2 separate regions of the Homo sapiens genome follow, and region 2 is linked to region 1. Evidence: fine-mapped expression QTL. Tissue or cell type: tibial nerve. Region 1 holds a variant in brackets; the other region holds the start of a gene. All regions are shown on one strand. Distances are from middle to middle.

The links. PIP is the estimated chance that this variant, and not a neighbour inherited with it, causes the effect.
Region 2: it holds the start of ATP10D, and the variant in region 1 is fine-mapped to the expression of ATP10D in tibial nerve (GTEx, PIP above 0.99).

The regions. Positions count from the first base shown.
Region 1 is chr4:47,583,810-47,586,664 of GRCh38, reverse strand. All of the region lies in intron 21 of ATP10D (ATPase phospholipid transporting 10D (putative)), which reads right to left. Among named protein-coding and RNA genes, the nearest start is that of MIR8053, 67 kb to the left of the region's middle. The variant T/AAT (reference allele first, on the strand shown) is at 1,325.
Region 2 is chr4:47,484,322-47,486,998 of GRCh38, reverse strand. It overlaps ATP10D (ATPase phospholipid transporting 10D (putative)), which reads right to left and starts at 1,724. Exons shown (of 23, transcript NM_020453.4): 1 at 1,480-1,724. RefSeq lists enhancers at 1,552-1,621, 1,593-1,887.

The sequences.
Region 1 (2,855 bases):
CAGTGAACCTCAAACTTAAGCCATTCAAATAGGTGTTAGACAGTACTGTTGATCACGAATACTGTCATTCTCCTCCCTGAGTAAGCATTCAGGTGGATCACATTTCCACACTCCCTTGAAATTAAGCATGGCCATATGTCTTGCTTTGACTAATAAAATGTGAGTACAAGGGGTATGTAAAACTTTCCGGTTAGAAGTATGTAAGAGCTTGTCTGCAATTTTCCATGCTGTCTCCTTTCCTTCCATACTGACCAAGAAGTTCTCTGAGAGGATGGTTGCTTCTAGAGCTGTCTGGAATATCAGCCAACTTTATATGAGCAAGAAATAAATGTTTGCGTGTCATACCACAGCCTAGCTACTTTCATATTCATGTATATCTTGCAATATTATTTTTCTTAACATCGGTTCACTAATTAAGTAACTTTATCTAGAAAGAAAAGTACAATGAGATATCATCTCAATCTCACCCCAGTTAAAATGGCTTGTATCCAAAAGACAGGCAATGCCAAACATTGGTTAGGATGTGGATAAAAGGGAACCCTTGTACATTGTTAGTGGGAATGTAAGTTAGTACAGCCACTATGGAGAACAGTTTGGAGGTTCCTCAAAAAACTAAAAATTAAGCTACTGTATGATCCAGCAATCCCACTGCTGGTTGTACACCCAAAAGAAAGGAAATCAGTATATCAAAGAGATATCTGCACTCCTATGCTTGCTGCAGCACTGTTTACAATAGCCAAGGTTTGGAAGCCACCTAAGTGTTCATCAACAGATGAATGGATAAAAAACTGTGGTATATCTACACGATGGAGTACTATTTGGCCACAAAAAAAGAATGAGATTCTATCACTTACAACAACATGGATGGAACTAGAGGTCATTATGTTAAATGAAATAAGGCAGGCACAGAAAGACAAATACTGCATGTTCTCACTTATTTGTGGGATCTAAAAATCAAATCAATTGAACTCATGGACATAGAAAGTAGAAGGATGGTTATCAGAGCCTGGGAAGGGTAGTGGAGGTATCAGGGGAGGTGGGGATGGTTAATGGGTACAAAAGAAAAATAGAAAGAATGACTAAGACCTACTATTTGATAGCATAATGGGATGACTATAGTCAATAATAATTATATATTTTAAAATAACTTAAAGGATCTATTTGGATTGTTTGTAACTCAAAGGATAAATGCTTGAAGGGATGGATACCCCATTCTCCATGATGTGCTTATTTCACATTGCAACCCTGTATCAAAACATCTCATGTACATAATAAATATATACACCTACTATGTACCCACAAAAATTTTAGAAATAAAAAAAGA[T/AAT]TTAAATTCAAAAAGGAAGAAAAGTATATGCCTACTTTAAATGTATGAGGTTGGTGCAAAAATAATTGCGTTTTTTTTTTGGCACCAACTTCATAATATTAATATTCTCTGTTATAAAAGAGCTGAGTCTAGGGTTTGATTAATCTTTGTTATAAAGAGAAATTAGCAAGAATTACTGTGATAAAACATAATAGCATCAAATGAGATACCTCTTTGATATAATCGGAAGTATGAAAACAGAATTACCTTCACATTATGTAGTATTTAGTGTTATTTAGTGCAGTATACAGTACTACCTAAAATCATGGTGTGTACTATTGGTGGCACATATCATGCTTTTTAGGGAAACACTGCTTTTATTAATCTCTTTTATTTTCTAGGGCTATAATTTTCAAATAAGATTAGATTTTCTTCTTTTCTCTCCTAATCTTGCAAAGTATTTCCCCATGGCAGATACCTTCACAAGAGTCACACAGACTGCTTATTTTTAAATAAAATGTACAAACAACTAGAAAAATGTTAGCTAACTCCTGGATTAAGATCTTCATGCTGCTAAAACAATAATTCCTTTTTTTTCTTTCTCAAATGTCTTTCCTTCTATTTGAGCCATTTTGCTCCAATTTTTTATCTCTTAAAACATGCTTTGGCCAGGCACAGTGGCTCACGCCTGTAATCCCAGCACTTTGGGAGGCTGAGGTGGGTGGATCACGAGACCAGGAGATCGAGACCATCCTGGCTAAGATGGTGAAACCCTGTCTCTACTAAAAATACAAAAACAAAATTAGCGGGGCGTGGTGGTGGGCGCCTGTAGTCCCAGCTACTCGGGAGGCTGAGGCAGAAGAATGGCATGAACCTGGGAGGCGGAGCTTGCAGTGAGCAGAGATAGTGCCACTGCACTCCAGCCTGGGTGACAGAGCAAGACTCTGTCTCAAAAACAACAACAACAACAAAAACAAACAAAAAACAACAACAAAAAAAACATGCCTTTGGCAAGTGAGATAGTGACTTCATAGAGTTTATACATTTAAGTTAATTGATACAAAGAAGTGAAAGTCAAAGAATACTGGGTAAAAACCAACAGGGAAGTGGGAGGTGGCAATGAGATGGTGAATAAGAGCATGAAGGGAAAGAGTTTTATACTTTCAGAATGGCTGGCTTTTATTAACAAGAGACCTGCAGGGCCAGGATCTCTAGCCATGCATCCTCCAGCATAAGAAACAATTCTCTAATGATGCATCCTTTAAACAGCAGTCTCTGTTTATCTTTGACTCTAGCTTTCACAATGCTGCACTCCAGCATTGTGTGCAGTCTCGGCAAAATATTCCTCCCCTAGCCAAAGCCTGTGACTTAAGCTAGGGAAATAGGATTCCATCACAAGAGAGTAGACTTGGAGCACAATGGGGCAAGAGCAGAAAGAAAATAAATGGAGCCAGTTCAGACCAGAGGACCATCCTGACAAGCCTGACCATTAGTTTCTGCTCTGTGCATCTCCAGAGTCACTCTGGTTTCTCAGATATTTTTGCTTTTCTTT
Region 2 (2,677 bases), 100 kb after region 1:
TCGGCCTCCCAAAGTGTTGGGATTACAGGCATGAGCCACTGCGCCCGGCCCTATTCAATTCTATTTAGTCACTAAGTATGAAAAGTATTCAGGTTTTGCTAAGCCAGGGTCAAACACTCCCCACATCCTAGTTTAGAGTGCTTAGATTTTCCCTCTTTTTCATGCAATTTAATGAATGTTAAATTAGCATGAAAATTAAATGTTATTTTTAAACTCCCTAAAACTTTAAAATGTTGCTAAGTTATTTTTCCAAATGTATAAAATGACCTCATTTTAATAAAAATAAACTATCTCAATGTAGGTATATGATACGTATTTGTAGTGAGAATAGAAAACAGTCCAGAAGAAGCAGTTATTACTTTTTGAGGTGGATCGGAGTGGGAGGTTCTTGCTGCGGGCACTGAACAAACTACTCCGTTGCAATGATTTTTGCTCTTCACAAGTCAGCAAGGGTTTTCGATGATGCTATTCTTCACAGAAATGTGACCTACATGATTTAAAGGCTGATACAAGTAAATATTGGTGGATGAGGAGCCCCTGTCCTTGTTGATGCATCTCTCAAGGTTGATTTTGAGTTAGAGGTTTGCTCTGTCCATACAGACTTGTTTTTCTCCCTGCTTAGAACCAGCATGAAAAGAACGCAAGAAGAAACTTTGGTCTTATTCAGATCACATTTTAAAAACCTGAGCTAGCATGATAAGAGCAGTTAAAACATATTCTTTCTAAAGGCACAGGGTCCCAGACACCAAAATAACCATCCATTCCCTAACCAACTGATGTCTCTCTGCTGTACGTGGTAAATTAAAACTACATGTTTTACAACGTAAAATAAAGGGTGCCCCGAATAACAACTAGGTTCTTTAAAGTTAGTGTTTTGGGGGAAGCATGGGGGCTTCTTTGTAGCACTCCTTTGAAAACTATTTCCGAGAAAGCTCCAATACAAACACCTTTTTCTTCCTAAGGAATCAACCTTAGGGAATCAACCTTAAGGAATCAATCTGCTGGGCTAAATCTTCAACACCTTCCCTTTTCATCACCTTTGAGGCAGATAACCAAAATTTCTTTAAACTGCTTATTTCACAACGGGATGACAAAGGAGTGTGTGTGTGTGTGAATGCGTGTGTGTGCGTGCCCGTGTATGCCCGCGTGTACAAAGGTGTGTGAGAATGCGTGTATGTACGTGCCCGTGTGCGCCCGCGTGTGCAGTTTACCTTTTTACAAAATCCAGCATTTAAAATAGATTTTTAAATTCCCCTTTAACAAATGATTGAAAATGGTGTAATCATTTTATCTTTTGTTGTTTTTTTTTTTTAGTTCAGTAACAGCCCAGAACTGTAGTTTTGAGCCATGTCATCAAATCTAAACACGACTAGGGAAGTGGAGCGGGGAGAAACAGGAGAGAGAAACAGAAAGGAAAAGCGGGTGGGCGGTGAAGCAGAAGGCTGGGACAGTCAGAGGGATTCGCCGTCTCACTCTTACCAATTCCTCCCTCGGCACACATCACAGCATGTTGGTCACGAGTCGCAAGGTACAAGAAAAGAGCTAAGCACAAATTCGAAGAGTGAAAGCGGGTTGTGCTTCCACGCCAGCCATTTGCCTTCCGGGAAAAAAAAAAAATCACTTAGACATCTCCCAAACTCAGCTGCGGGAGCCAGCGCCGGAGCCTGTGCTGAGCTCGCAACCTACTTCTCCCTCCGCTCCTCCTCCCGTCTCCGCCAGGCTGCAGAGCAGCCCGAGCTGCAGTGCACCGCCAATCGCCCACCGCCCCGCCCTCCGTGACGTAGCAGCGGCAGGGCCTGGCAACTGACCGGCTCCCAGCTCCAGCTGTTTGACCGAGCTGCCCTTCTGCCCAGCGCAGATGCCCCAGTGACCCAGAGCCCTTACAATCTCACCTCTGACTTTCACCTCCCAAGTACAGGTTGCTCGCGGTTGACGGTTTGGTTCATTGTTTTGCTGCAATTCTAACAATTCACTGTTTTAGCTAAACGTGGAACACTGGACAATTATTTTTTGGAGGGTAAAAGAGATCAAATCTAAAAATGTCGCGCCACTGCATTCCAGCCTGGGCGACAGAGTGAGACCCTACCACAAAATAAATAAATAATATGTAATGTTACTGTTTTTATGACTAGAAAAGAAATGAGGAAAAATATTACAATTCTGATTTGGTCGTTTTCCTCACACCTTGCCCTTCCGTTCCCTTACTCAGGATAATGTGGCTTTGTCCATACACCTGCCAAGGTCCGTTTGCTTAAAATTCACAACTTTTTTTAAAACTTCTAAATAAGTTTCAACAACCTGTCTGGTTTCTCAAAATGTCTAATTTGGAAAGAGGAAAAGCCATTTAGTGAAGGCCGAACCAATAACTCAGAACAAAACCTAATAATCTTGGCTGCCTGTTTTATCCCATTGAAACAAATATAAAAAGTGGGGCCAAACTCTCCACAGCTCTCCTATATTGTGCCTCTCTCTTCCATTCTCTCAAGTGTTTCTCAGATGTGCAACAAGAGTGAAGAAAACTAAATGAGCATGCAAATGTTTGACTATTAGTAAAGAGCTCACCAGTACAGACACAGGGAGCTGGTTGGTCGGCTTGAAAATTCTCTCAGACCAAGAGAAGCCAAACAAGTTTCTGCACCCACTGAGAACGTGCTTCTGCCAGACGAGGAGAAACAAG